Linked DNA regions of Homo sapiens. The protein of the gene in region 5 purifies or fractionates together with the protein of the main gene of each other region. This does not show direct contact. Each region holds a gene or a part of one and is shown on either strand. Other genes may lie near its edges.

The links.
Region 1: the proteins of FAM3B (region 5) and MTX2 purify together in Homo sapiens (affinity purification with mass spectrometry; one large-scale study listed by BioGRID and IntAct). This does not show direct contact.
Region 2: the proteins of FAM3B (region 5) and TM9SF4 purify together in Homo sapiens (affinity purification with mass spectrometry; 2 studies listed by BioGRID and IntAct, with this or other methods). This does not show direct contact.
Region 3: the proteins of FAM3B (region 5) and ZNG1A purify together in Homo sapiens (affinity purification with mass spectrometry; one large-scale study listed by BioGRID and IntAct). This does not show direct contact.
Region 4: the proteins of FAM3B (region 5) and GNPTAB purify together in Homo sapiens (affinity purification with mass spectrometry; one large-scale study listed by BioGRID and IntAct). This does not show direct contact.

Annotation. Positions count from the first base shown.
Region 1 is NC_000002.12:176,274,265-176,280,623, reverse strand, and holds part of MTX2 (metaxin-2), read right to left. Parts: intron 1-6,359. UniProt on the Homo sapiens protein: Involved in transport of proteins into the mitochondrion.
Region 2 is NC_000020.11:32,157,074-32,163,432, reverse strand, and holds part of TM9SF4 (transmembrane 9 superfamily member 4 isoform 1 precursor), read right to left. Parts: intron 5,640-6,359; coding exon 5,464-5,639; intron 4,983-5,463; coding exon 4,919-4,982; intron 3,442-4,918; coding exon 3,322-3,441; intron 2,158-3,321; coding exon 2,068-2,157; intron 1-2,067. UniProt on the Homo sapiens protein: Associates with proteins harboring glycine-rich transmembrane domains and ensures their efficient localization to the cell surface.
Region 3 is NC_000009.12:149,978-156,336, forward strand, and holds part of ZNG1A (zinc-regulated GTPase metalloprotein activator 1A), read right to left. Parts: intron 4,819-6,359; coding exon 4,732-4,818; intron 2,102-4,731; coding exon 2,057-2,101; intron 1,451-2,056; exon of another isoform or gene 1,328-1,450; intron 749-1,327; coding exon of another isoform or gene 730-748; exon of another isoform or gene 1-729. UniProt on the Homo sapiens protein: Zinc chaperone that directly transfers zinc cofactor to target metalloproteins, thereby activating them.
Region 4 is NC_000012.12:101,761,386-101,767,005, forward strand, and holds part of GNPTAB (N-acetylglucosamine-1-phosphotransferase subunits alpha/beta precursor), read right to left. Parts: intron 4,910-5,620; coding exon 4,706-4,909; intron 3,920-4,705; coding exon 2,817-3,919; intron 379-2,816; coding exon 179-378; intron 1-178. UniProt on the Homo sapiens protein: Catalyzes the formation of mannose 6-phosphate (M6P) markers on high mannose type oligosaccharides in the Golgi apparatus.
Region 5 is NC_000021.9:41,339,652-41,346,010, reverse strand, and holds part of FAM3B (protein FAM3B isoform a precursor), read right to left. Parts: intron 1,536-6,359; coding exon 1,477-1,535; intron 326-1,476; coding exon 275-325; intron 1-274. UniProt on the Homo sapiens protein: Induces apoptosis of alpha and beta cells in a dose- and time-dependent manner.

The DNA.
Region 1 (6,359 bases), on a different chromosome or scaffold from region 5:
TTATGACTGAATAAGCACCAACAGAAGTCTGACCTTGTGGAAAGACACAAATGTGTGTGGATATGGTTATATCTCACCTTGTGCCACTCACAACATGTGCCCTGTGTGGATTACTGACCCACAGGATTCATAAACATAAGAAAGTGGCTGTTTTACACCTGTAAATTTAGGGTGGTTTGTTACACTGCAAAAGTAACTTGCCAGTTAAGACTTTTGATAGTTACTATTAATCACACAAAATGTTGACTCATCTGAAGCCTCAGAATTCCGTTTATCTAAATCGGTTACCAAGCTGACTCCTGACCATATTACGTTTATAAATTCCCTTTACTGCTTCAGACATAGATTTTGACACTTGCACTTTCCCTACAGTTTCACTTTATTAATCCAATATCTTGAATCTTTGCCTTCCTGAAATCTCACTATATCTCCAATTTGCTGACCACATCACCCTGACTCCCTGGCCTCTAGTCCCCAGGATTTGGTACCCAGTGACTAGAATGGCTTACATCCATCTTTAAAAACTGACCTAAATGGCAGTTGCTACATTATTCACAGATTGAGGAAACAAAAGAGAATCCAAGAGAGAAACAACTCTAGCTAAAGTCAAATCTAACTATATCTTTTCATAAAAGTCAAACCAATAGTCATTTACCTATGATACAAAGATAATCTAAAACAGTAAATAATGAAAGCATAGTTTATATTTGTCTATAATCTGCACTCTGTAATTTCTCACACATTAGCACCGTTTCTAAATATTTATTTTAATATTAAAATTATTTTATATTCTCCAAACAGCCACCAAATGCTAGTATGAGAAAATCAGTGCACGTAGATGGCAAAAAGGAGAAAACTGTTTAGGGAGAAAATACATCAAAAATAATTCACAATCTCAATGTAAGAACAAATGTCAATTATCACTTAAATAGTTAACATTATGTAACTAGTTCTCCTGGACTAGCCAACTTAGAATCTTAAATCGATGAACAGTAATAACAGTAATAGTAAAAATAACAATGATAGCATCTAACAAAAAACTAGATAGCAACTTTTATTTTTATGGTATTTCTCATAAAGACATAATCTTTTTTTAAATTTATAAAATAAGAAAGAAACATTACTTATAATTCATAATGCCAAAACATTTTTCTATAACATAAAAGCTAACAATCAAAAGAAATGGAGGTCAAAAGAAGGCTAGTTCATTGAGTCAGCTGCCAATATTACTTTACAGAAATAAACACTGGAATAATAATGGCCTCTTCATGTTATACAAATGACACAATTTATTCATATAAAGTTCTGATTAGTGCTCTAAATTGACCAGGTAATAAAATATGATGTGGGGGTAAATACCATTGTAATACTCAAAGATACTGTATCCACTGTAATAAATATACACATCAAAAGTCTATTTTTTTCCATCTAAAGACAGATCAAGTTATGAAGAAATTCTTTGGCTTATACAAGTTCTTAGAGATAAAATATATGATCAGCAAAAAAACATAGCTAAGTGTATAAAAACAGTGAAATGCATTTTATGGTTTCTATTTTGCCAACACAGTTACAGTTAACGAGAATTGTCATGACAAAATGATTGCTTTTATGAAAAGAACCTTCTTTATTACCAACCAATCAAATTTCATTTTTATTACTGATGTAAAAAAGTTCAAAACCATAATTCATTTATAGAGCGTACAAAAATAAGAAAAGTGTTCAAGAATAGAGGAGAGGATCATTTACAAAGCAATAAAAAATTAAAGCATGCATCCCTTTTACTGGCAAGGCAAATACTTCTATATATGAATGTCTATAGCTGGATTTACTGAATATTATAACTTCTGTCTTTGAAAAAAAAATGAGAAGCCTGAATTTTCAATATCTCATCTCTATTTGATATCTTCAGTCCATCTGATAACTGCTTATCAAGAAACTTCAAAAATGTTTGAAAAATATTAAAAAGTTTGGTGGCGTTTTCTTTCAATTTTCACCAAAATATGGCAAGCTTGGGCTAACGTTAATAACTCAAAAGTCTTCAAAGAAATAAGACTGACAAATTTTATGGGGCACCCATCACCAAAATCTTTTAAGTTAAAAACTAAAAATCATGTAATTTCAGAGTATAAAATGTTAATAAACCACATTAAGTAAATTAAAACTCATATTACAGCCTATGAACTATTTCATTAGCAGAAAACAAGCCTCTGAAGGGATCTTATTATCAAAGTTTTCAAAAATTTACATAATATTGCTGTTAAGAATTTAGTTTTGGCCAGGTGCAGTGGCTCACACCTATAATCCCAGCACTTTGGGAGGCTGAGGCGGGCAGATCACATAAGGTCAGCAGTTCAAGACCAGCCTGGCCAACATGGTAAAACCCCGTCTTTACTGAAAATACAAAAATTAGCCAGGTGTGGTGGTGGGCACCTATAATCCCAGCTACTTGGGAGGCTGAGGCAGGAGAATCACTTGAACCTGGGAGGCAGAGGTTGCAGTGAGCTGAGATCACCCCACTGCACTCCAGCCTGGGCAACAGAGCAAGACTCCATCTCAAAAAAAAAAAAAAAAAAAAAAAAAAACCAGTTTCAACCTATTCAGCAATACAGTATAATAAAATACAGGATCCACTGCTGTCAATAAACTATATCTTGCCTCTAGTCTGAAGTATAACCTATTTTGTCACTATTTTGCTTTACCATCTGCACCATTCAATCTCAGCTTCGTATCTTCAAGGTCATAAGCACAACTGTGTAAGATTATTCATATGACTAATATGTTTTTTTTTTAATTCTCTTAAACGTGACGGTCGGTCCAATAACTTTTTAATAATTCCTCAGTGCCTTCCTCAATACTGGAAAATCCTCAGAATACTGAGTAAAAATAACAAAATATCTTTATTTTCAAGAGCAAAAGATTAAAGGCTGGGCACGGTGGCTCACGCCTGTAATCCCAGCACTTTGGGAGGCCGGGGTGGGCAGATCACCTGAGGTCGGGAGTTCGAGACCAGCCTGAACAATGTGGAGAAACCCGGTCTCTACTAAAAATACAAAATTAGCCAGGTGTGGTGGCACATGCCTGTAATCCCAGCTACTCAGGAGTCTGAGGCAGGAGAATCACTTGAACCCAGGAGGCGGAGGTTGCAGTGAGCCAAGATTGTACCACTGCACTCCAGCCTGGGCAACAAGAGCGCAACTCCATCTCAAAAAAGAGAAAAATGAATTTAATGCATTGTATTTCTTCAATTATCTGTTGCAACTGTCATCATTAAATATTCTGATACATGGATATACAAGCCTTTACCATCATTTTCTTCATTGTGAGCAATAGCATCACTTCTATATTACAAAAGCCTTTAAACCTTTATTTTCTACTTCCTTTAGCCTCTGGAACTCTTCTGAATGCTTTTCAAGTCCAGATTCCCCAGTACTCATGTGAGGAGGGATGGAATGAAAACACTTTATTACCAATATAAAAACAAATTTTTAAAAACATACCTGTTTTAATCACACTTTCAAGATGCGTACATATGGGTTCCATGGAACGCTGCAAAACTACTTTCCTAGCTCATACTATAAATTAATGCTACTGCTTAAATGAAGTTATTAATAAATTTAAATAATTAAGCACCCAAATGCCCACAACGAGATAAATGGAATATTCCGACCATTCTTTTTTCATCCTTTATATAGTTTACTGAGCTTCTAAATAAAGAACAGAACAGATATTGTTCTTATTTCAAAAGATTAATAAATTATAGTATGATGAAACTAACTGATGTGCTTAAAATATGGCAAGGCACCGGTGGAGTAATAAATCAGAAAAGATGGTATATGAGTAAAGAAAAGTAAGAATACTTTGGGCATTTTCTGCTGTCCAAAATGGTAATGGGATACTACATGTTAAGAGTTAATATCCTCAAAGGACCCCTTACTATAAGGTGAAAGGCTCTTGGGCAATAAAAGTAACAATAGAAACTAACATGTACTGAACATTTATTATCTACCACCCTATACTAGATACTTGACATACATTATAAATATATTATCCCCTTTTACAAATGAGGAAACTGAGGACTAGAAAGGCCTGCCAACAAGAAGCAGGGTTGAGCTTACTCCAGCTCTTACTCCAATGACCTTGTTCCTAACCTTTATACTGAGTTTCAGTATTCTTATCCACAAAATACCTAACAAGACCAAATTGTTATTATTAGCAATTACGTATATAAATCATTTAACACAGTAGCTCAAAAGCTTACTCTTATTATCAATAACCAGCTATGGCAATTCTAATTAACAGACCGCCAATATGACCTATACCAAGATTCAATTTTATAATGAAAATAAACATGGCTGGAGCATATCAAATGTATATATCTTGAAATAAACATCCTGGAATAACAAATTATTCTAGGATACATTACTAAGTAATTTTAATAACTGCAATAACTGTATGTAGATACTTCATATTATTGAATTAAATTATCTGTTATTTACAAATAAATTTTTAAAGCTTTACCAAAATTGTATCTTTAAAGTAACACATTATTATTTTCACCATTTTACAAATGAGAAATCTCAGGCTTAAAAAGGCAGTTAATTTGCCCAAGTTCACACAGCTAGGAAGTAGCTGAATAAGAACCCAGGTTAGACCTTTCACTTCAAAATCCATAGAAAGTGTAAAAGCAACGTGAAGGAAGCAATCAACACTGCAGCCAATTTCTGCTGTTTAGTGCTCAACACCTCTCTCCCTTCTTTTGTGTATCTGGTGGCACTGTGGAGCCCTAATACCTGGAGCCACTCCTGGCACAGGGATGGGCAAGTGAGTTAGGCCTGTCCACCCAAGTACTCTACCCTTTTGGCTGCTCCAAATGCCGTCATGTAGCCCAAATGGGATTACACAACCCTCCCCTATGATATATTCATAACCAACTGACTGGAAGAACAAAATTAAAAAAACAAAATGTGAGTAATGTATTGAAAAATCTCTCCATTAAAAAAAGTGAAAACAAATATACAGGTTATAAAATATTTTTAAACTATTTTTAATAATATCCAGGTCTATTTTTATCCTTTTAAAATTCTAGGCCGGGCACAGTGGCTCACACCTGTAATCTCAGCACTTTGGGAGGCTAAGGCAGGCAGAACACTTGAGGCCAGCAGTTCAAGACAAGCCTGGCCAACATGGTGAAATCCCATCTCTACTAAAAATATAAAAATTAGCTGGGCATGGGGGCAGACACCTGTAATCCCAGCTACTCAAGAGGCTGAGGCAGGAGAATAACTTGAACCTGGGAGGTGGAGGTTGCAGTGAGCCAAGGTTGTGCCACTGCCCTCCAGCCTGGGTGACAAGAGTAAAATGCCACCTCAAAAAAAAAAAAAATTCTAAATCCAGCACATCATCATCTAGAGAAACAACTATTCATTCAAAAGCATAACTTACCATTTCTTTCCATATTAAGCTAAAAGAACAGTTCAAAATTATCTTCCACTTTAAAAAATATATTCCAAAAAACTACTGAACAGATGCATAAATATGTTTACGTAAGCACTGCTTACAACAGACAAAAATCACACACACGTGTGATGGCTTTGGGACACATCAGCTTACCTACACTGAATACACTTGCCAAAATTCCCTTTCTACTATGTCTCTAAAGTGGGCTACAAGGGATATTCTCCGCCAGGTGTTGGGAAGAGAAGAGAGGCAACGTCATTTTGTAGCAGACACACACTTCCTCCTAGCTTTTCTAACCCTAATCTAGGTGCTGCCATAAAGAGATTCTGCTGATATAATTAAAGTCCCTACTTAGTTAGCTTTACATTAATCAAAAGGGAGAGTATCCTAAGTGGCCTGATTTTATCAGTTGAAAGCCCTTTAAAAAAGGGTCTAAGTCCTCCCTGGGATCAGACACTCCAGGTAGTACCTGGTCTTGCCAGTGCTTAGTCCTGGATCTCCCCCGGCTCCTGACTGCCCGCCTTGCATGCTTTGCACTTACTTTGCCAGCCTCCACATTAAGAGCCAATTCTTTGCCATGTGTTTGTGTATGCACATACATGCATGTGTGTGTGTGGCTCGAGAGAGAAATAGATATCCTGGTACTTCTGCTTCTCTGGTTGAACTGACTGATAACAACTCTCTAAATACCCATCCGAGTAATACTACTTAAGTAAATTTTGGCTTCTTCATTACAATGAAATACTACATAACCATTTTAAAATGATGATGTGTAATTCCATTCACAGACATGAAAAGAGATCCCAATATATGACAAAACAGGTTACAAAAAATTATGCATATTATATGTCGATTTTTTTAATTCAGGGAAAGAGAATGAAATAGCTTTGCTCATCAAAGTT
Region 2 (6,359 bases), on a different chromosome or scaffold from region 5:
ACTCTAGGGCTGCCACTGGCCATCTTTCTACTTTGTGAAAAGATCTTGCCTGCAGACTGAGGCCAAAAAAAGATACACAGGGCTAAGGCGTGGGCACAGAGCCCTGGTATGTATGTGTACATACATACATACATACATATATATATATATATATATATATATATTTTTTTTTTTTTTTTTTTTTTTTGAGATGGAGTCTTGCTCTGTCACCCAGGCTAGAGTGCAGTGGCACGATCTTGGCTCACTGCAACCTCTGCCTCCAGGGTTCAAGCGATTCCCTTGCCTCAGCCTCCTGAGTAGCTGGGACTACAGACGTGCACCACCACGCCCGGCTAATTTTTTGTATCTCAGTAGAGACAGGGTTTCACCATGTTGGCCAGGATGGACTCGATCTCTTGACCCTGTGATCCACCCTCCTCGGCCTCCCGAAGTGCTGGGATTGAGCCCTGATATTTTTGAGACTCTGGATCTAAGCATGGTTGAGGCTAGAACTCCAATTTCTTAGTCTTTCCAGTTATATAAGCAAATACATTCTTTTTGCTTAAGCTACTTTTTTTCCCTTTTTTTTTGCTTAAGCTACTTTGATAGAGTTTTAGTCACTTGCCACTTATGAGAGTTATGATTAATATGGGCTATAGAGGAGGGAGATTAGATTTGTTCTAGATGATCCCAGAATTAAGACTAAGGTCTAAAGATGGAAGTCACAGCAAGGGAGACTGCAGTGTGAATCAAGACCTTGATAATGACAGGAGCTGTCCAGAAAGAATGGGAATGTTAGGAGGGAGTGTCTTCTCTGTTGCTGGATGTAGTAGAGCAGGGGTCTGCAATCTTTTACTTAGAGGGCCAGATTGTAAATATTTTAGTTTCTGCAGGCCATATGGTCCCTGTCGCAACTACTCAACTCTGCCATTGTAGTGTGAAAGCAGCCATGGACAGATATGTTAATGAATGACCATGGCTGTGTTCCAATAAAAATTTATAGAAACAGGCCTGCTGGCCCACGCGGGCTGCAGTTTGCTGACCCCTGAGCTAGAGAATCATCTGTTGAGACTGTTAGAGAAGAGGGGCACAGTCACCAGACTGGAGGTAGGGGTACAGCACTACACTAAATGATCCTTCCAGTCTTTTCCAACTTGACTGTTTTTGGGAAACGGCATTCCCAGCTTCGATCAACTGACCTACAACTCTATTTTGCAAATACGCCTGACTGCCACAGAGGACTGCTTGCTTCTGGGCTCTGGAGACCCAAAGTACAGCAGGTCAGAGTAAGTCTTGAGTATTAGTTTTGGAGGTGAGGGGCCCAACAGGGCTCCTCCAAATTCCTCTCAATGGCTCATCTGGTTTGTGTATCATGAATGAATCTAGTAAAACTGTCGTGGGGACATCTGTATTCTTGCCCACGTCTCTCTCTCGGGACAATGAGCTCTGTGAGTTGCCCTAGTCAGGTAAGCCTGGCTCCCTCTTATTATTGGGCCACACTTTACCTATGTGGGGTCACAGAGTTAGGAGGGCTCCGAGGTGCCTGTGAAAAACTTTCCCATCCTCTCCTTACTCTGCAGGATTGAACAGTACTTGCGTGAAGAAGAGAACACCTGCAGAGACAGGATACCTGCAGCCCTAAATTTGGGTTCTACTATTTAGACTATTTCAGCATTTTGTGCTTTTATCTTTATTAACTCCTTTCTACTTTTCTTCTTTCATGTTACTCTTATCTTTTCCTTTTTCTCAAGGTGTTATTAGTCCCTCTTATTTCCTGTGAAGAGCACTGCAGGTGACATATTGCTTTCAAGTCCTGCTTTGGCTATGGCTATACCTCGTAAGTTTTACAAGCATTATTCACATTGTCACGTATCCTGATGGCCTTTGTCTCCCAAACATACAGAATACAGATTCTTTCTTTCCTAAAAAGATCCATCTTCTAGAGCAGGAACAGTTCTAGGTGGCTTTGGTCCTCCCCATTCTGGGTGGAAAAGGAAGATTCAGGCACTTGGGTTTTTCTCCCAGCATCCTCCTCCTGACCTTCCTACCCTATGAGGACTAAGAGGACCTCCTCAAGGAGGGCAGTACCTTGTTAACGAAATAAAAGATGGCATAAACCAGGACGTAGAATGCAGAGCCCCCGGAGACTAGGAAATTTCTCCACCACCAGCGGTAATCCTGAGGAGGAAACAGAGGAAGGTCAGTGTTGTCCTGGGGCAGAACCCCTTCCTACCAATTTCACAGTTGCTTGAGGGGCTGAAGACTCTGGTAAGAGCAGTAACATATGGGGTGATGGAAATGTTTCACAGCTTGACTGTGATGGTGGTTCCAGAACTGTATGCATTTCTAAAAACCACAGAACTGTGGACAAAGAAGGGTGAACTTTACAGTTTATACCTCATTAAAAAAAAAATCAACAACAAAAAAATAATTAACATTTCTCGAGCAAATGCTTAGCATGTGGCAGGCACTATTCTTTTTTTTTTTTTTTTTTTTTTTTTTTTGAGATGGAGTCTCACTCTGTCGCCCAGGATGGAGTGCAGTGGTGCGATCTCGGCTCACTGCAACCTCCGCCTCCTGGGTTCAAGTGATTCTCCTGCCTCGGCCTCCCAAGTAGCTGGGACTACAGGCACGTGCCACCACACCCGGCTAACTTTTTGTATTTTTAGTAGCGATGGGGTTTCACCATGTTAGCCAGGATGGTCTCGATCTTCTGACCTTGTGATCTGCCCGCCTCAGCCTCTCAAAATGCTGGGATTACAGGCGTGAGCTACCGTGCCTGGCTGGCAAACACCACTCTAAGTGCTATAGATGAATCCACTCATTTAATCCTGAGAGCAGCCCTCCAAGTTAGGTCCTCTCACTCACCCCATCATGTGGAGGAGGAACGGATGGCATGAAGTTAAGCAACCCGCCCAAGACCCAGAGCTACTCATGGAGGAGCCAGGGTCCCAGCCCAGAGGGACTGTTCATCCCAAACCCTGGCTTCACCCACTCTGCCAATGGCCAGTTCCCAGAGGGAGGGCAGGCCACCCAGTGTGCATCAGCCTGTTGAAGAAACTACTACTGGAGTGGACTTGGCACTGGCAAATCTACTGTCCTTTCATCTAGCTGTGGTGAGTACCCCACACAACTAAGCTGGAAGGTATCTCATTAGGCCCAGGGTACAGCTGAATACATGGAGGCTGGGAGAGGCACAGCAACGTACTGGCCCAAGAGCTCAGAGCCAGAAGCAGGGGCCACATGAAGAGCCCAGACCCAGCCTCTCCGCAGAGCCTCATCAACCCGTTCAATGCTGGATCCAGTTCTCCCTCCCCCGCCTCCTGGCCCTGCTCTCCTCACCTCTGCACACAGCTGGAAGTACACCATGACGATGCTGATTTGTGAACAGGATACCACCAGGATGATGAAAACAAGGAACAGGAAGCCAAAGAGGTAATAGAACTGATTCTCCCAGATAGCCTGTGGACACACAGTGGGGCTTCAGCTGGCTTGACCACCCTGCTCCCCTTCCCCTGGCACACCAACCTGTCACAAGGGCAGGAGTGGACACATCATCATGACACCATCAGGGCCCGTGGGCCTGGCATGTGGCTCTGGCCCCTCTTCCCCAGAGCAGGGGGTGAGCCACACTGTCCTTAGGGAGGGGCCAGGGGTTGACTGACCTGCTCTGGGTAGACCCCAGCCTGAACTCAGCAGCTTGTAGAAAATAATGATTCTTATCCAAATCAAAATTATAGAGCAGCCACCACCACTTGAGCAGCTTACCAAGCGCTAGGCCTTATGCCACATGCCTCATATACAATTGCTACATGTGTGTGTCTATGAAAGCTTGGCCTGGTAGAGCTAAGAAAGTCAAGGATCAGAGACGCTGGTGACTGGCCCAGAGTCACACAGATGAAACAGAGGGGGCTTCCCTGGGAAGTGCACATGGGCTTTGGTACCATGGGCAGCCAACACCTCCTCTGACCCTTCTCCCAGGCAAACCTGTGTGGGTGAGGTGGTCTCAGCAGGGAGGGGCTGGGCCACTACTCTGGAATAGCAGATACATGTCCGGTACTGACTTGGTACAAGGTACCATCTGTGCTGGGCCCCGAGCTGGGTCAGCCACACTTACATGCCTCTGAAGGGCCTTCCTACCAACTTTCATCTTGGCACTCTTTGGGAGGAGTCATCATCACCATTACAACAGCATTTCCTGAAGTCAAGCATTTTTACAATGACTTATTCCAACTTCACAATGACCCTGACAAGCAGGAATCATTCTGTCCACCCTCCCAGGAGCTGTGAGTAACACAGAGAGGTAAAGATGTGCAAGGACCCAGAAATGAAACCAGGTGCAACGATGCTATTAGTCATGGTGGGGAATGACTGAAGTATCACTGAGGCAGCTTCTATTTACCAAGTCCCCCTTTCCACACACCAGGCTCCCCACACACCACATATCTCATTTAAATTTTTTTTTTTTTTTTTAGATGGAGTCTCTCTCTGTCACCCAGGCTGGAGTGCAGTGGCGCGATCTTGGCTCACTGCAACCTCCACCTCCCAGGTTCAAGTGATTCTCCTGCCTCAGCCTCCCATGTAGCTGGGACTACAGGCGTGTGCCACCATGCCCGGCTAATTTTTGTATTTTCTAGTAGAGACAGGGTTTCACCATATTGGACAGGCTGGTCTCGAACTCCTGACCTTGTGATCCACCCACCTCGGCCTCCCAAAGTGCTGAAATTACAGGTGTGAGCCACCGCGCCCAGCCTCATTTCACTTTCAATGCTGCCCTGAGAGGGAAGGCTGTTGTCCAATTTCAGGGTGAAGAATGGGGCTCCGAGAGGTGAAGTGGCCCATCTGAACTTTCTCAGGCAGTAGGCAGCAGAGCACCCGAGTGGAGTGGGAGTGACCCGGCTAGCATGGGTGGAGGGGTGGGGGAGGCACCAGTACTCACACTGAAGATGAAGAAGAGCTCGATGAACATGGCGCCGAAGGGCAAGATCCCAGCCATGAGGATGCTGCCACAGAACGAGAGGTTGACATTGTTAGAGACCAGGCCACCAGGAAGCCCCAAGCTCCTTCCCAAGCTGGCATGAAGAGAGAGCACCTACACGAGTGTGGTGGTGCTAATTCTTCTGGCATATTTCTGTACTATTATAATCTCTTGAGAGGTAGGCAGGGTGGGCATTATTCTCCTCATTTTATAGATGGGCAACTGGGGTGCAGAGAGGTGGGGTGACTTGCCCAAGGTCCAAGTGATGGTCTTAACCTGTCTCACTATACCCTTCCATCCTTCCCCTTCCTTGTCCTGGTTCCTAGGATGACACCAAGTCTGCCTACAACCTGGTCACCTTGATCTTGGAGTGAAGTTAAGCTTTCATAAACTCTATTAGAGCCGGCTGAAGCGGCAGGAACTCTGGTTGCCGCACCCTTCTGGTGGCGGAGGGGGGCGTACCCTCTTCCACGTTCCCCTGCTCTTGCCTCTGCTGGAGGACTCACCCCACAAATCGGTTCATGTACCACCGCTGCTCGGGGATCTGCCGGGGAATCTGGTTGGTGCGCACAGGGTTGTCATATGGCTGCTTTCGGAAGCCGAAGTAGTAGCCCAAGTAGACGAGGGGCAGGGAGATCCCGAACCACATGCACAGCAGAGCCACCATGGTGGGAAAGGGCACCTGTAGACATGGCACCATGAGGCCCCCACGAGGCCCTGATGCCCGGGATGGGGGCTGCGCAAGGGGGAGGGGACCTTCTGGGCTCCACAGAAGGAGAGGCGACTTGTGCAGCAGAAGCACACTCCCTGCCCCCACCACAGGGCTCCTGGCCAGAATCTCTTGAGGCTGACCCCAGCCCTGATCTGGACTCCCAGTGAAGAAGGCACCTCAGCATCCCAGAGGAGCTCACCATCCAGGGAGGAAGTAGGGGAGGAACAGGAAGGAGTGGACTGAGAACGTGAAGAGATGAAGAGGTCAAAATGAAGAGATTACATGTGGCACATTATGTGAAGAAAAGAAGGGAAAAAACAACACTGTACAAAGTGCTCCCAATCTTGTCAGAATAAAACTACATGATATACTATTAAGTGTAAAAAGGAGGCTATAAACTATGTGTATAGAAGGATTCCATTTTAATAAAAACACAACATAGTCGGTCCTCTGTATCCATGGGTTCTGCATCTGTGGATTTAATCAACTGCAAACAGAAAATGTTCAGGAAGGCCGGGAGCAGTGGCTCATGCCTGTAATACCAGCAGTTTGGGAGGCTGAGGTGGGCAGATCACTTGAGGTCAGGAGTTCAAGATCAGCCTGGCCAACATGGTAAAACCCAGTCTCTACTAAAATTACAAAAAAAAAATTAGCCGGGCACTGTGGGGGGCACCTGTAATCCCAGTTACT
Region 3 (6,359 bases), on a different chromosome or scaffold from region 5:
TGAGCCTTTTTCTACACATGCTTATAGCAGTTTATTGTCAGTACTTGTCAGCTACAAAATGGTAAAAAAATTTTAAACAAAAAATAAAACAAAACTTCTATAAGAGTGACTTTGACTATTTTGTTAACCAAATCTCCGGTTTTGTTTTTTTTTTTTTTTTTTTTTTTGAGACAGAGTCTCGCTCTGTCACCCAGGCTGGAGTGCAGTGGTGCGATCTCAGCTCACTGCAAGCTCCGCCTCCCGGGTTCACGCCATTCTCCTGCCTCAGCCTCCTGAGTAGCTGGGACTACAGGCGCCCACCACCAGGCTCAGCTAATTTTTTGTATTTTCAGTAGAGACGGGGTTTCACAGTGTTAGCCAGGATGGTCTCCATCTCCTGACCTCGTGATCCACCCACCTTGGCCTCCCAAAGTGCTGGGATTACAGGCGTGAGCCACCGCGCCCAGCCCAAATCTCCAGTTTCTAAACTGGTAAGCTCAAGTTGCTATGCCTCAAGGAATTTGAGAGAATATTTAATGTAAGATTCAGGACCCAATAGTAAGAATTGTACTCAGGACATCTGATCTTCATTGAAAAGGATTCTAATGCAACTTCAGTCCTCATAGCAAGGAAGTACTATTTCAGAAAGTCCCTAGATTCTCAGATGCACTGGCAAGCACCATACACTGAATAATTCACAGAAGATTTTAGTCACTTGCTCACTCATCCACTTGAAGTAAGAAAAATCAATCACTGCATGTTTATTGTTCTATAATAAAGCAAATGTTAGAAATAAAAGTTAGAAATGTCAAACACACTAAATTGTTACATAATAAACTAATCAAGACACAACTTTTATTCAGGACATGGATATTTCTGAAATGAAAACAAAAGAAGAGAATTGACTTAAAATGTTTATAAATACGAATATTATGACAGAACCAAAGCTATTTATGAGCATTATTTTTAAAAGCTTGTTTAAGTATTATGCACTTGTCTGTGTGACATTTTGTAAAGCGGAGAAAAATTAAGGAGAAAGGAATTGTAGAACACTAACAGGAAGAGGACAGATACTGAGGAATGGCTCATAGTATAAGTGAGATTATCAGAGACTTTCTACAATGGAATTTGAAATGCAGGGAGCACATTTGGTGTATGGTTGTAGAGGACTTACACTAAGGGCATTCTTCTGCTACCTCTGCCAGCAGATGAGTGGCTCCTGAGAATGCATACCAAATTAATTCCCCAGCTGTTCACATGCATATAAGCAGCTGCTGCTGTTACTGCCTAACACTTATGGCAGTCTGGCAGCACCTCTAATCTCTGCCATAGCAGACAAGCCACTCACCTAAGGCCTCTGCTGTACTTCCAAAGAAAGAATTTCTCCAGTAGAGACTGAGTGGAACTAGACTGCCAGCTGTGAGCCTCAGAGCTCCTGGCTGCCTGTTGCTGAGTCTATTAGCTGCTGAGCCTTTCTCACCAAAAAAAAAAAAAAAAAAAAAAAAATGAGCTTAATAAAATAACCCTGCACAGAAATTTTCTGAAATTAAGATAACATTCAATGGAAAACAGAATTTAATCTACAGAAATACACTTCACAGATGTTTTAGGAACAGAACCTAGAGAAAATGAAAGTCAAAATTTAATAAAAGAATTTGTCAGGAACTTCAAGGTAAAGACTCCATGTATTTTTTGGCAACTATAAAACACTAAGAAGGCTTTTTAAATATTAAAAAGCCATTTAAACACTTCAAATTAAGATTCCTCAATATACTTCAGATTTCTGTACTGAGTTACCCTCTCGAGTGTTTGGAAGTCTTTTCTTCCTCATTAAGCAAACACTTACACAGTGTTATCATGGCTTTGTATTCTTAGTTTTGAAGACAGGCAAATGTACTAGCCAAATATGCCAAACTAACTTATTAAGAGCATTCCAAACAACATTTTGGATCCAATTCTTTTTAAATGCACTTAGATCTTTCTTATATTAGAATCAAGCATATTTGTCAATTATTTAATGTTTATTATTAATAACTAAAATGATTTGTTATTAATAGGAATAGCTTTTTTAAAGTACCTTGATCTTTGTGTTTCTAAGATTTGTCCTAGTCCATTTATGGATCTGAAATAAATAATAAATGAGGAAGACAAAGTTTAAAAGTAAAAATTAACTTTTTAAAAAAGTATACAAAGTATATTGTTTCTAAAACAGGAAATAAGCATACCCAAATACATCTGGAACCAGAAAAAAATTAAAAACAGAAAAACAAAACTTGCTTTAAAAAATAATTGTGATTTTCCTTCAAACAATAAATCACATATATTCCACTCATACATTAATAAAACATATATGCAAAAATTCGCACAACTGTCAGATTAAGGGCTACTTTGTGGTTAATAAAAAGACACTTCACTTTAGAAAAAATCATTCATAAATAGTCAGTTATCCTAGTGTTCTTAAAAATGAGTAGATACTCAAAATTTTTACGGTGGTCACTTTTTTCCTCAGGCATACATGGTAGAAATGGCTATATACACACTAAAAATAAAAACCTAGTTGCAAGTTGCTTTGCCCCCAGCCTGTCCTTAGTATTCACAGTAATTCTAAGTCACACATCCCAGGTTCCTTTATAGAATAACCTCGTCAGTTACCTAATTAGGCTCTCTACCCGTTATGCCTGTTCTCCCTCTTTTGATACTATAGAATATGGCTTCGTATGGCACCAAAAAGTACCTGTTAAATTCTTTTCAACACACTGTACACCTCATCTATTTATCTTTTCCATTGCCTATCATCAATCATCAATTCTCTATCATGAATTCAATTGTCTTTAGGGTTACTTACCCAAGATTCTTGCTACTTGTTCAAGTTTGTTCTCATGGGTAAGGCTTCCCACATATAATGATTCTGAGGCAAGTCTCTCCACTATTTTACAAAATTCTTAAATCTTCTTTTTTGAATACACTCTAGTCTGATGGCTAATTCCTCTCAAACATGTTTACCTTTTTTCACCTCCCCAAATATCATTCTGAGTCAGTCACAAGTCTGATATAAAGGGAGGGTAAAAGCCAAAAGGGTGTGTAATTTATCAAATTGCTTCTTCCAAATTCATTTCTAGTACTGTTAACAAGCTGGCTAATAGTCAATATTGTCAGTGTCAGAGATTTAGCTTAGGTCTCTATAAGGATATAAAAGTCAAGTAATAATTATCATTCCTTTTATGCCAAAAACATTTGCTAAATAGATTGTGTTCTTCTTAGCAATCACAATGGTGCACAAGATTTATGAAGAGAAACAAGATTAGAAGACCAGTGTCAAAAAATGTAAAAGCAATCTTCATTCATCACTTTCTCCTTTTCAAAATCAGCCATCTTTTTCTTTCTTCCCTTTTTTACTATACCTTGAACTTACTATGTAAGCTAAGAAAAAAATTACATAATAATAGCTAACAGAGCACTTACTATGTGTCAGCACTGTGCAAAGTTTACCAACATTGTCTCATGTAATACTCAAAGCAAACTTATGATAGGCATTATGCCTTTTACAGAGGAGGCTTTAAAAGGGTAAATAAGCTCCCTAAGAAGACAATGAGAAACAGACCAAGGATTAGAACCCAAGCAGATTCCAAGGTCTGTGATCTTCAACACTACGCAACAATACCTACCCTCCACGTGGAGACATTATATTTTTTTATAGTAAAGTTTAAGGACATTACTATTAAAATAAGATGAAATATGTGGAAAAAATATGAATTTCTTTCTTCCACAATCATTAATCATGGCAAATAATCTCCTAATGAGCCTTACCTTTATTGATTCAATTGATAATATATACTATATGAACTGAGATGACAGATTCAAAATCTAATGTCAGTAGAACTTATAAATACTAAGAATAGTAATTTTGAGCCATCACGCTCAAAGCATTGTACACATTAAAGATAACCAATACTAATAGCTACCGAATGTCTCTCTGTATAGGGCTTTTATTAGTTCAGGTCTTACAAAATAATTCAAAACAAAGCCCCTGAACTATAACCTCATTTGAAAAGCCCATCTTTGTTTTCAAAAGGAATGGGAGTCTCCAGAACAGTCAGCAAAATGACTGTTAGCACATATTTGAGCATCATTCATATTGTCCTGATTGTCCTATGCTGATCAGCCTTGGCTATGGACAAAGAAGATATTAAAGCAAGCTGGAAGACAAGGCATGGTTGACAGTTAAGGAAGATGAAGTCAACAAGAGTTCAGGGAAAACTGAGACCACTTGAGTCAGGGAAGACTTCACATAGGAAGGGGGGAGAGACAGAATAGGCTCTATAGAATAAATTAAAAAAAAAAAAAGCAGAACAAGAAAGAACTCAGGGATTGGCAGAGTGAGAATACATTACGAGTAAAGACAGGAACTGACAGGATGCATCCATGGGAAAGTGAATTAACCATCCTGGGTAAAGTTAGGGAAGACTGACATTAGGAAAGAGTCAAAGAGAAGACAGGAAAAGAAAGATGGAGTGCGAAGACCCTGAATATCAGTCTATTAACTGTGAACTATATTCTGCAAGCACTGGGGACTAATTTTATGTATTACCATTTATATAACAATTAGCCATCAACAATATATGTGATTCCCTAACGTTCTTGAAGCAGCTCAACCTTATACCTTAAGTTTCTACAGGGCAACAATCAGAGTAAAAAATATTCTGTGTATACAACATGGATCTGTAGGCACTTAACACACTTATCATTTCGTACCTAATTGTCGTTCTTAATTTCTTTACATCTTCTTCTGGAACCAGGTCTGTTTTATTAATGAGAATGGCATCTGCCAAAGCAACTTGTCTAAAATAGCAAACAGAGAAATGTTAAGAAACTTTAAATAATATACACGCATGCAGATTAATACATCAAAAGAGGAATGTTAACAAATCAAAAATAAATAAAAACGCCTCATGTAGATCAATATATCAGTTAAGAATTATCTAGTGCTCTATAGGAGTGACTCAGTTTACTCCTAATCCGCTAATTTTTCAATGTGGATGAATTGTGTTCATTACTATGCAAGTTCAGATTTCACATTACCCATTCGCAAAGTATTTACTAAGTTCTGTTACTTGCTACTCTTGTGCTACAAAGATAAGTCTCAAAAAGTTTACAATCAAAAGGATGATTTTAAACTCATAATTTTCTTTGTGAAGAAAAGCATAAAATTCAGATATCCAATATGGTAAAAAGAAGAAGAGTTTACCTACTAAAATACTGTAATATTTACCAAAATTTTCAAAGAAATAGAATAACTTCACTTAATACTAAAAACTGTATTAAACAGGTTTTTTAAAACTATACTTCAGAGCTGGGCATGGTAGAGCACACCTGTAGTCCTGGCTACTTAGGAGGCTGAGGAGGGAGGATCCCTTAAGCCCAGGAGTTCAAGTCCAACCTGGGCAACATAGCAAGACTCCATTTCTTAAAAAAAAATAAGCTATACTTCAGAAGATATATCAGGATATTGCCCAAATGTCTTCTTTATCACTATAAATATACTGTATATTATCTCTGTAAAGAATCCAGTTGACTGAATGCTAGATAACAAAGTAGATGATAATAATCAGAAGCTCTATTTTCTATTAGCAGGATAGTAAAACTGGAAATTCTTTCAATTTTCCTCAATTATTCAGGGTCTTATGCTTTATCTCAAAGAATACAACTAAATTCTCAAAACTAAATTCACTTTAGTTCACTGAAAGAGCAGGTTTCAACAGTATGTACATCACAAATCCAATTTGGCTATTTTCTATTTGGCTTATTTATATTTTCTATAATAACCATATTTTCATAAGGAAAACAGTTACAAAAATACTTAAGTTCAGCCAGGCACAGTGGATTCATGCCTGTAATCCCAGCACTTTGGGAGGCCGAGGCGGGTGGATCGAGCTGGTCTCAGGAGCTCGAGACCAGCCTGGCCAACATGGTGAAACCCCATCTCTACTAAAAAAAATAAAAATAAAAATAAAAAAATAAAAAAAAAATGCAAAAATTAGCTGGGCATGGTGGCGGGTGCCTGTAATCCCAGCTACTTGGGAGGCTGAGGCAGGAGAATCGCTTGAACCTGGGAGGCGGAGGTTGCAGTGAGCCTGCACTTCAGCCTGGGTGACAGTGAGATTCTGTCTCAAAAAATAATAATTATTATTATTATTATACATATATATATATATATAAAATCTTCAATCCCAAAGAAATTGTATAACAAGAAAATATTTTTAAATGTTAATATTTCCCGAGTTCCTCAAAATTACAGAACTCCTGTGTTCAGCATTCACTTTATGCTACGACAAAAATGACTTTAAGTAAAAGTTTAGTTATCAGATCATTATAAATAGATA
Region 4 (5,620 bases), on a different chromosome or scaffold from region 5:
AGTATGTACCGTATCTAACATTTGCAGAGATGGACTTTTTTCTTTCTCACTTAGATAATACCTTTAACATATTAGTCATCAAATATTAGAGCTATAAATTTAGCATGGTAAATATGCACATTTCAAGTAGCCTTAGTTCTGAACACAAGCAAACAACTCAAACACGAGCAAGACTTACATATCTTGCAGTTCTTGCATAACAATCCGGTCAATCATGTGAGGCATGTGAGCAGGGACTTTCCGCGATGTGAATCCAAACTTGCTATTTAGAATTTTATTTACATATCTGAGGGAATCTGCAAATGTATCTTTTAGTTGCCTCCCAGTATTTTTGCTATCAGTGAAGTATGCCAATTGTGTCTTCAATGACTCTTCTTCCTGAAAAGAGAATTCTACATGTAACTCAGCATTATGTTTAGTGCACAAGTGTACTTTGTTACAAGACATTTTATATAATGTGGTAATAACTAGTCACGAACTCTTCATTAGGAGCAAATGAAATACATGTTAACGGGTCACTTTAAGGATCTAAACTGGACTTAGCAGGACTCAACTGGATTTCAGTGCAAGTATCACCAATGTTGGTTTGAGAACAACAGCTGTACGATGGAGATCTACATAACAACAGTCACATATGGAGGGTATTCTTCAAGGACTGGTCACTGACTGTGAGATGTCAAAGCTAATTCAATGCAACATTTAGAAAATTTATGTACATATACATTTGATAGTACTTTCAATATCAAGCTATTTCTGCAGGTGATATCAAATGTGCAAGTCCTTGAGTTTTAAGCGCAAGGACTAGAAACAAATTTGGTTTCATCTTATAATAGTTTTAATATTATAAAATCAAAACCAGTCAGTGGCAGAACTAAATAGGCAAAGAAAATTGGCAAAGCATTCAAACACTTTACAGAAATATTTTTGCTTCTCAAACTGATAAAAATAAAAATGTAAGGAGACTGATATTAACTGGTGTTGGTTAGACTGCAGTGAAACAAGCACTGTTGTATACTGTTTGTGGAAATATGAAGTGGTGCAACATTTCAGAAAGACATATTTAAAGTTTATACCTGCTAAGCTAGTAATTCTACCTGCAGAACTAAAACTCACTGAAATGTAAGATATATGTACAAGAGAATTCACTGCAACACTATTTGTAATCACAAAACATTGGAAATAACTAACCTGCAGCCATTAAAAAGAATAATGGCACTGGCATGGGTATAAATAAATAAATAAATAATGGCATTTGCCCACATCCTACTACATCAAAAGGCAACTGCAGGGAAATATATGTAAATTTACACTATACATATATTTCTCTATATATAACTATACATACATATAGGTATGTTTGCATAGCTATAGAAAAATACTGGAAGAATACCCATCAAACTATTAACAGCAATTATCTCCGGGAAGGAGACTGAAGAAGGAAGAACTTTCCTTTATTTACTGTATATTTTTGAATTGTTTGCAATTTTTACTACTAGCCTATAATGCTTTTGTAAATTTAAAAAAAAAAAAAAAAAAAAAGGAAAGAGGCCAGAGGCCAGGCACAGTGGCTCACGCCTGTAATCCCAGCACTTTGGGAGGCCGAGGCGGGCGGATCACCTTAAGTCAGGAGTTCGAGACCAGCCTGGCTAACATGGTGAAACCCCGTCTCCACTAAAAATACAAAAAATTGGCCAGGCATGCTGGCACATGCCTGTAATCCCAGCCACTCAGGAGGCTGAGACAGGAGAATCTCTTGAACCTGGGAGGCAAAGACTGCAGTGAGCCGAGATCACGCCATTGCACTCCAGCTTGGGAAAAAGAGCGAAACTCCATCTCAAAAAAAAAAAAAAAAGAAAGGAAAGGAAAGAAAATGGGGGAAACTGAGGAAATAAACATAGTCAAGAACACTGCAGTCCTTCACTAGACAATCTGTAAATGCCTCATGTGCAAGGCACAAGATACTTCCTAAAATGCTGAGGACATAGTTCCTCCTTCACTCTCTTTTCTCCCAGCCTAACACCCACTCGTGGCTGTGTGCCTTCACTATTCAGCCCAGACTGTATGATTTTTTTTTTTGGTCTGTCAACTCCCACCCCTTCGAAGGTCAGTCCACAGGGCACTTCCTTCTGTATGCCTTCCCTAGTACTTCTAGGCAGAGCTAAGGAGTCCTCCCTCTGAACTTCTTGCCCATATCTCAACACAGACACATCTCTTTGCTACAGTTTTCTCCCCACAAATTTGTCTTCTCTACTGGTCCCTGAGTTTCCACATGAGCAGTGGCTATGTTCCCGTCATCTTGCATTCCCCAGTGGTTAGCACCGTGAGAGCACTGAGGAGAGGTACAGATGACACCACAGCACAGTGAAGCCATGGTACAGGGCAACGAGCAGTCCAACTTTGAGGCTTGGCTCACACTGATTTGCTGTTATAATGTTGGGGAAGCGAATGAACTTAATTGAACTTCAGGGTTTTTCATCAGTAAAGCTGGAAAAATACCATATCTGAAATGTCAAGACAAGACAACATGCCACTTCCCACTCTCCTTCCTCCAAGTACGCCCCTGGCTAAATCCCTTACTCATTCACACTTGGGCTGTTTCCTAAACTACAAAATGGGGACAGCAATAATAAATACCTTCATATGACATTTTTTATTATTAGGGTTATTGGGTAAATTAAATGAAACCATGTAAGAAAAGCATTTAGTTCCATGGCCGGCACAGGGAAGTGCTGAATAAATGGTAGCTATAATGATATTATCATGAGATTATTTACTCTTCCTGAGCATGAGAAAGAATGAGGCTGGATGTTACTTACGTCGAGAAGATCTTGGAAATACTTTTTTTTCTCCCATGGCAAAAAGCCCAAGTAACTATCTGTGTAATGCTGCAGCTTTCTTCCAAGTAACACTTCAGTAACGCCTATGTGATTTTCAGCATTTTCCTCCATTCTACTGTTCTCTTTTTCTTTCCCTGTGATTTTCTTTTCTTTTGTCATCTGGCTTTCCAGTGGAACAATCAGAGATGGGGGCTTTTCTTTTGTCACATTTCCGCCTATGGTTTTTTGGGTGTGAGTTTCCACTCTAAATCTTGCTGTGGTCTCCAAGTCCAGGGGTGGATTCTGACCCTGGTCATGACCATTCACTTTTACACTCACTGCAGGAAAAGTCAACCTCTGCAATCTTTCAGACACTCCTAAGCTGTTTGGCAAGATGCTTTTATGAACCTGTTTTTCCTGTGGAGCCACCAAACTGTCATTTGTTTCATCTGTTATTATAGCTTGATTTTTTATTTTAGCATGCTGTGAGTTCATCAGAAATGATCTCAGCAAGGCTGACTTGGACAAATTGTATCCTTTCAAAGTGATGTCTCCATGTTCCAGTTGCAAATCCAAGGTATTGAGACTCAACTGGGCGTCTTTTGGAAGGAGTGAAATATTTACCAGGGGAATTTTCACCTCTTCCTGGGCTCTCCTTGTTGAGTTAACATCATGTCTCTTAAACTTCGGGAAGCGTTTTTCTTTGGGAATATCCTCAAAAAGGATTTCCGCCTCTGGAAGAAGTGTTATGGGACTAACTAAATTTTCGTAACCCTTCTGGGCTGTAGAATTCAGTTTTGGTCCCTCCCTTGTGTCCACCTCCACTGTTATCTGCATTTTGAACTCTTCATCGTTTGTATTTTGAAACGTGAGATTAAAATGTATTGTGGTGGCATTCATTCCACTGTGCATTATGAGGTGGATGGTTTTCCACTTGTTGGCAATAGAAGCATGTCGAATTATTGGATTGTCACTATAGGCACCTTCAACTCCTCTTTTGGCTACTTCTGCAAAGCTGAAATAAGGCAGGCATTCACCTTTTGGAATAATATAGTGAGTCTGGTTTGGGAGAAGGATCACTTTATACAATTCATGAAAATGATCTAGAGGAAAAAACAGAAACATGATTTTTTTTTTAACTGGGCATTTTTCCTCTGTTTTCCTTTAATTCTTTGAGTCTGAGTTTTCACTTTCTTTTAAAAAAAATAATAGGGAATGCATCATGAATTTGCATGTCGTCCTTGTGCAGGGGCCATGCTAATGCCTAAACTGTTCTAATTTTAGTATATGTGCTGCTGAAGTAGGCACTGAGTTTTCACTTTCTAAGAGTGACTTTAATTTCAAAATAATCAGATATCCTAATACAACAGTTACTGGTATAGGGCTTATTTCACTATCTGAGGCAGTCACAATAATTACCATGAAATAGTGATCCTGACTCACTATAGAGATATGGCATGGTTCTTAACAATAAATTACAATAATCAATTTCCATCTTTTTATCCATTTGAAAAAAACTTTCTGCCAAAACAAACTCCATTAATACGCTATCAACAAAATCCAGTGTTTGAACCATCTTTATTTAATGAATTATTGATATCCTTTTTTGTTTCCAAATTAAAACTTCACCACATATTTTCAGCTAAGGTAAATCTGCTTGGTCCAAACAAAACAAAACAAAACAAAACACCAGACTGCAACAATAACAGGAAAAGATCCTCTTCAGTGATTTATGTTGTTCTCTTACTTTCATAACTAGTTTGAATGCAAGGCTGGTAAAGGGATACACAGAGAATCATTATTTTAAATAACAAAAGCCATTCAAAACTCTCTCTACCTGTCAAGGATGTTTTATGCTCCCATTCTTATTTGTTTGGCAGTAAACATACCTTGCCCACAGTCGCCAGCATCAAACCCACAGGACAAGACATTGCATGCTTGGTCACAGAACTTATCAGCGAGCCAGGAATTCGCACATCCCTGATTACAGTAAGAGACACTGTTTATTCCTCCACCAAACTGCCAGGGCTGTCCAACTCCAATACTCCCAGTACCTCCACCTCCTGCAATATAGCGACTCCCTCCACTGTTTCCTGTAGATCGGAGGAAGAAGAGGGATTCTTGCTGTAATTACAATTTTGAAAGACAGTTCTGGACTGGGTGTGGTGGCTGACGCCTGTAATCTCAACACTTTGGGAGGCAGAGGAGGCTGGATCACCTGAGGTCAGGAGTTTGAGACCAGCCTGGCCAACATGGTAAAACCCCATCTCTGCTAAAAACACAAAAATTAGCTGGGCGTGGTGGTGGGCGCCTGTAATCCCAACTACTTGGGAGGCTGAGGCAGGAGAATTGCTTGAACCCGGGAGGCGGAGGTTGCACTGAGCCAAGATTACACCACTGCACTCCAGCCTGGGCAACAAGAGTGAAACTCCGTCTCAAAAAACAAAAAACGAAAAAGACAGTTCCTTATTTCATATTGATGTTTTCAAGGTTGATGTGTAAGTTTTAGTCAGAAAAGGTTCACCTCATTCTTTAGTAGAAGATCTCATATACCTTAAGAAGAAAATAAACGTAAAAGGGAGTCACTTGACAGAAGCGTGATGAACAGGCCCTGGCATTTTGTAGCTGTGCAACCTACAAGTACAGGGCTTACATTTGCTCAAGGGGCACGTGCTGACAGAAATGGAGGAGCACGAAAACAAGAAGAGATTATTCCAAAGACTGTGACTATCAGAACTGCCAAAAACATGTCCAAACGTGGGTAACATGTTTGATACCCCTTGTTATCAAATGCTAATGTTCCA
Region 5 (6,359 bases):
TTTTCTCTTTCTTATTATATCATGAGAGCTAAAAAGAGAAAGACTGAGGAAAACTAACAGAAGAAAAGACATTTCTAGATGATGCCTTCAAATGTTCTATGAATTCAATTAGAGTTTAAGAGGATCTACATAAGACCACTCTAGATTACTCAGGAGAGCTGCTGGCGTTTTTCTAGTAGACAAAATAAAAATGGTTGACATTTTTCTTTGTGCTTTTTAATCTTAATTTTCTGTTTAAAATTCATTTGAATTTTAACAGAAAAAATTTTCTTACCACCTTCATACATATCAAAACATCGTGTTGCTGTCACATTCCCAGTTACATCTGAAAATAAAAGAAATGGTATTTTAAAAGAAAGTTCACAGAACTAGGGCGCACTTGTGGCACCAGGGCCTGGGGAAGGAAATATTTCTTCCCTGTCTATCTCCAGCAAACACCACTGATGTAATGACCCAGCCTGCAGAGACAGGGCGGGCCCCTTGAGGAGAGTCCCCAAAACCAGGTCAAAGGAAAGTGCTGGAAGCTGTGCTAGAACTTTCTTCCAGTTTGCTTTGGGTTACACCTGATGGAACACTAATACCTCCCCCACCCAACTCATCTCACAGAAACACCAGAGACCCCTCACTCAGGCCCACCCGCCTCATCCCACAGAAACACCAGAGCCCCCTCAGCCAGGCCCACCCGCCTCATCCCACAGAAACACCAGAGCCCCCTCAGCCAGGCCCACCCGCCTCATCCCACAGAAACACCAGAGCCCCCTCAGCCAGGCCCACCCGCCTCTTCCCACAGAAACACCAGAGCCCCCTCAGCCAGGCCCACCCGCCTCATCCCACAGAAACACCAGAGCCCCCTCAGCCTGCCCACTTCCTACTTTACAGCCTCCTTCAGGGCTGTCAGATTGGGAGCATTTTATCTTCACTTCCACAGCCCTCACGTCTCGGGGCTATGCGGCCCACTCACTCACAGGGACGTTGTGGGAAACCCTTTCCTTCTCCTCTGGGCCCCTCAAAGGCAACTGTGAGAGAGCTTTATTCCAGACCTAAGAGAAAGGCCAAGTTTTGTTTCCCACGAGGTTGCAGTGGCTTTTATCACACAGAAGGATGAGATGGTCTATGGTGTCAGCCCCTGAGCAGACACTGGGACTCTGGGAGCAAATGAGAGGCTCAGTCCAGGACCACAGGCTGCACCCCCTTGGCGGCCCTTCTGGTGTTAACCCTAACTTTGGCCTATCCCTCTGTTTTTTTCTTTTTTTAAAATAAAGTCTATATTTGGTTTTCAGTTGTTTATTTGTTGTTAGAACCACAAATAATCTGTGAAGTGAGACTTGTAAAAATAATTGAGTATATAATCTTAAAATGCATTAAAATACAAACCTAGACTAAATCACGCGCAAAAGTCTCGAAAACCCAAGGTACCTTTGAAAATCTGACCAGAGAGCTTTTAGAGAAGTTTAAAGAAAATGTTTAGTAACTTACAGTTGACAATGGCAATGTTTATTCCTCTGGCAACATTTCCCAGCTGTTCTCCCATAAGTCTGAAATGGAGCTAAGCATTAGTCAAGTACCAAGAGGCGTGCGACTCTCCCCGCTCCGCGAAGTCTTCGCCTGACCAAATGTCAGTCTCATCTGCTGTCCCCCACCTTTTCCTTGAAAGTCTGCATTCGCCTTGGTGCAGCTCCCGAGACCGCCACCCCCATGTTCATCCACACACATCTATTCTCAGTGTCTACAGACTCAGTCCCTCAGGGGACCTGGACTCTCAGGGGACCTGGACACTGCATTCAATCTTATAATTTAGACAAATGGCTAGGGGGAAGAAAAACTAACATTTATTTAGCTCAGGCTCTTCACAGATGCACTTTATTGTTAATTTATTATCTATTTATTTATTGAGACAGGGTCTCACTCTGTCACCCAGGCTGGAGTGCAGTTGTGCAATCGTGGCTCACTGCAACCTCTGCCTCTCGGGCTCAAGCAATCCTTCCATCTCAGCCTCCCAAGTAGCTGGAAGTACAAGCGTGCACCACTACAACAGGCTAATTTTAAAAATTTTTTTGTAGAGACGGAGTTTTGCCATACTGCTCAGGGCGGTCTTGAACTCTTGGGCTCCAGTGATCTGCCCGCCTCAGCCTCCCAAAGTGCTGGGATTATAGACATGAGCCACCATGCCTGAGTATGTCACTTAATTTTTAACCTTTAAATTGTAGAATATGAAATGCCAAATTCAAGAGGATTGTGCCCTAAAATCAGGAAAACTAAATGACTTACCTGGAGATGGTAATTATTGCTGAAGATCACAGAAATTGTGTGTGTGCATGTTGTATATGTGCATGTTCCCATTGTCAAGTGTCAGAATCAATGACATGTTAGCTTTATGAAAATAATTTGGAAGGCTTCCTCCTTTTTCCATGCTTTGGAATAGCGAACACGGAACTTTAATATTTTGTTTTGACACCTTTACCTAAACTCCCCTATGAGTTTTCTAGGCTTAGTGCTTTTTGACAGGTTTAGAGACTATTCCATAATAACTTGAAGCAGAAAGAGATTTCTGATAATAGAAAATCGGCTAATCTAAACCGACTTTCTCATGGAGAAAAGCAGAAAACATGAGGCAAGTTTTGTTGTTGCTGTTGTTGTTAAAGATCTGGTTGTATACGTTAGAGACCAAATAAGGTAGTTAAGAATTTCCCAGGCCAAGATCTGGGAGAAGACTAAATTTCAGGTTGGTAAGTCCAGCGTTTAAAAGCTACTTTTAACCAAGGAGAATTTGCTGATTCCAGAAAAGGTGTGTAAGGAAGTGAACAGCCCTTCTGACAACCATGTGAGCCAAGGGAACAGAAGTTGGAAGCCAGGGTCAGGGCCATGTTAAATCTCCCACATCTTATTTGGCCTGGGGTCACAAAGGGTTGAATCCTGAAAGTGAGAGCAAACCAGAAAAAAATCAGAGCTTGTATAAACTTCAGCCTAGTTTTTAGTCAACTAGGTGGCCCAGAAAATCTTTAACACTTATTCAGGTCATCCTGTTCTGCTAAAGGTTCCAGGTCCCTGGGAGAAGCAAAGATAATTCCTCAGAAGAAGATATCATCCCATGCCTCAATTTTTTTAAAAAACAGGTGCAGGATCAAATGAAACCTGACACGTGAGGAAAAAGGCCAACGCACACAAGAGACAATGGAACCAGCAGAAAACAGTAGATAATAGTGACAGACTCACAGGCACTCTAAATGCTAGAGTTATCCAACTCAGACTTTAACTATAATGTATTCAAAAACATGGTTGATAAAATTAAAAATTTCAGAACTGAAAAGTACCAAAACTGACATGCTGATTTTAAAAAGAACCAGAATGAATTTCTAAAACTAAGATAATATAGTAACCTAAAATCAGTAGTGATTGAATGGGTTTGACAGCAGATTAGGTACAGTGGGTGAGAGAATTAGTGAATGGAAAACAACTCTGTCCATGATAAAGAGCAGAGAGGTAAACAAATGGAAAATACAAAATAGACTATAGGCTCTAGAGACTATAGTAGTGATAAGGTCTAATATATGTTTCATTAAGAATCTCAGAAGAAGAGGAGAAAGTGAATGGGCAGAAGATACAAGAGCAGAGAATTTGTTAAATTTGATGAAAGACTTCAATACCTACCAATTTAAGAAACTCAAAAAAACTCCAAAGAAGATAAAACAACAAAAGACACATTGGAGTACAAATGTTGAAAACCAGACAAGGAATCTCTAAGGTGACGGGGACGAGGGCAATGGGCAGTTACTTTCACAGCAGCGACAATAAGACTGTCAGCTGACTTCTCAAAAGGAAAATATAGAACCTAGAAGACAGTGGAATAGTACCTTGAATGTGCTGAAAGAAAGTAATGGCTAACACAGCCTACAAAAGTATTTTTCAGGAACAAAGATGAAATAAAGATATTTCAGAGAAACGTAAACTGGAAAGATTCACTATCAGCAGACCACACTATTTTTCAGGTATGAAGGTGAAGTAAAGATATTTCAGAGAAACATAAACTGGAAGAATTCACCATCAGCAGAACATGCAGGAGGGTTTGCTCTGTGTCTTTTGCTGTAAGAAAACTTACCTATAAGTGTAACCTGTTATTGGGTCTTAGGAATTTTTCTAGAGTATCACTGAATTTGAGGCTAGTTGTGAGAATCCTTCTTCAAAAAAACACTCAACAAAAATGTATGTGCATGTGCACCAAGAGACATAAACAGCACTGTTCATAATAACCCCAAACTGGGAATGACTCAAATGTCATTCAACAATAGAATGGATAACTGTAACATATTCATGCAATGCAGTATCATACAGCAATGAACATCTAAGAACAACAGCTACATCCAACGTGAAGGATAAATCTCAGACACAAAAGAGTATTTGGTTTATGATTCCACTTATACAAAGTCCAAAACAGACAACATTAAACAAGTGTTGAATTAAATAACAGTATTTTGCAATGCATGCTTAGGCAGTAAAACTACCAAGAAAAGTGAGGAAATAAATCACCACCAAAAAAAATCCAGGTTACCATTGGGCAGGAAGGAAAGAGGAAGCTGCATTTCAGAAGGGGTACACAGAGGGCTTATGGGGTGCTAGTGATAGTCTATTTCTTAGCCAGGATGGTGGTTACACAACTGCTCGCCTTATCATAATTTATTACAAAATGATATATTCATAAGGTTATTTATTGCAGCATTACTGGTAATACCAAAAGATATCAAACATCAGAAATGCCTATCAGTGCAGAACTAGTTGAATAAACTATGACACATCCGTGCTATGGAATACCACATATCAATAAAAGAAATGAGGAAAAGCCTGATGTACTGATATGGAGTAATCTCTATTAACTGTTAAGTGAAGAAAGCCAAGGTCATAACTGTGTATAGAGTTTACCACCTTTTATGTAAGAAAGGATATAAATGTGTGTGTACATATGAGTGTATACGTGTATAATGTGTATATACACATATGCACACATATTCATACACACATATACATATATTCACATGTATACATGCATATATATACCTGTATATAAAAATATACATAGGTATGTATTAATTTTATATATATATATAGCTTATTTTTTGCCATTAAGAAATACTGGAAGAATAAATCAAAAACTAATTAAAAAATTAATGGAGATGGGAACAAGAGGTGGGGAGAAAAGGTGGAGAATACAGGGAAGATTTCTCTGAGCCTCCTTTTTTGGGACATGTAATATTCAAACATAATGTTGATTTCTGAACCAAATAAATATATATTCAAAAATTAAATGAAACCCAAAGAAAAACAAACCTAGCATTGAAAGCAAATGGAAATTAATTCAATGTAAAATAACTACAGGGAAAGTAATTATTTCATATGACTTTGGTCATTGCTATGAGTTGAATGTTTGTTACCTCTCAAACTCATGTGGAAATAGCATTAAGAGGTGGGACATTTAGGAGGTGATTAGGCCATGAGGACTCTGCCCTCCTGAATGGATTAATGCTGTTATCACAGGAGTGAATGGGTTCCTTATAAAAGGACAACTTTGGCTGGGTGTGGTGGCTCATGCCTGTAATCCCAGCACTTTGGGAGCCTGAGGCAGGCAGATCATGAGGTCAAGAGATCGAGACCATCCTGGCCAACATGGTGAAACCCTGTCTCTACTAAAAATACAAAAATTAGCTGGGCATGGTGGTGTGCGCCTGTAGCCTCAGCTACTCAGGAGGCTGAGGCAGGAGAAGCGCTTGAACCTGGAAGGCGGAGGTTGCAGTGAGCCGAGATGGCGCCACTGCACTCCAGCCTGGTGACAGAGTGAGACTCTGTCTCAAAAAAAAAAAAAAAAAAAAGACAACTTCAGTCCCCTTTTGCCTCTCTCTCTCTTTCTGCTGGAACTGGGACACCCTTCTACTTCTCCTACCTTGAACATGAGAACTTCAGGCTCCCCCGCCTTTAGACTCCAAGACTGATACCAGCAGACCTCCCATCTCCTATTGATTCTCAAACTGAGAATTACACCATCTGCCTCTCTGGTTCTGAGGCTTTAGTACTTGGGCTCAGCCATGTTACCAGCATCTCAAGGTCTCCAGCTTGCAGATGGCCTGTCGTGGGACCTCTTGGCCTCCATAATTGCATGAGCCAATTTCTCTAATAAATAAATCCACTCTTTCCTTTCTCTTCTTACCTCCCACTGCCATTGGCTCTGTCTCTCTGGAGAGCCTTGATTAATATAGACATCTGACTCTTTATAACCTTAATAAAATATTTTTAAATCTATGAGGAACTGCAAACAACATTTTTTAACTTCACTCAGTAGTTGTATTGTTAGTAGTCTTGGTATTGTAATTTGA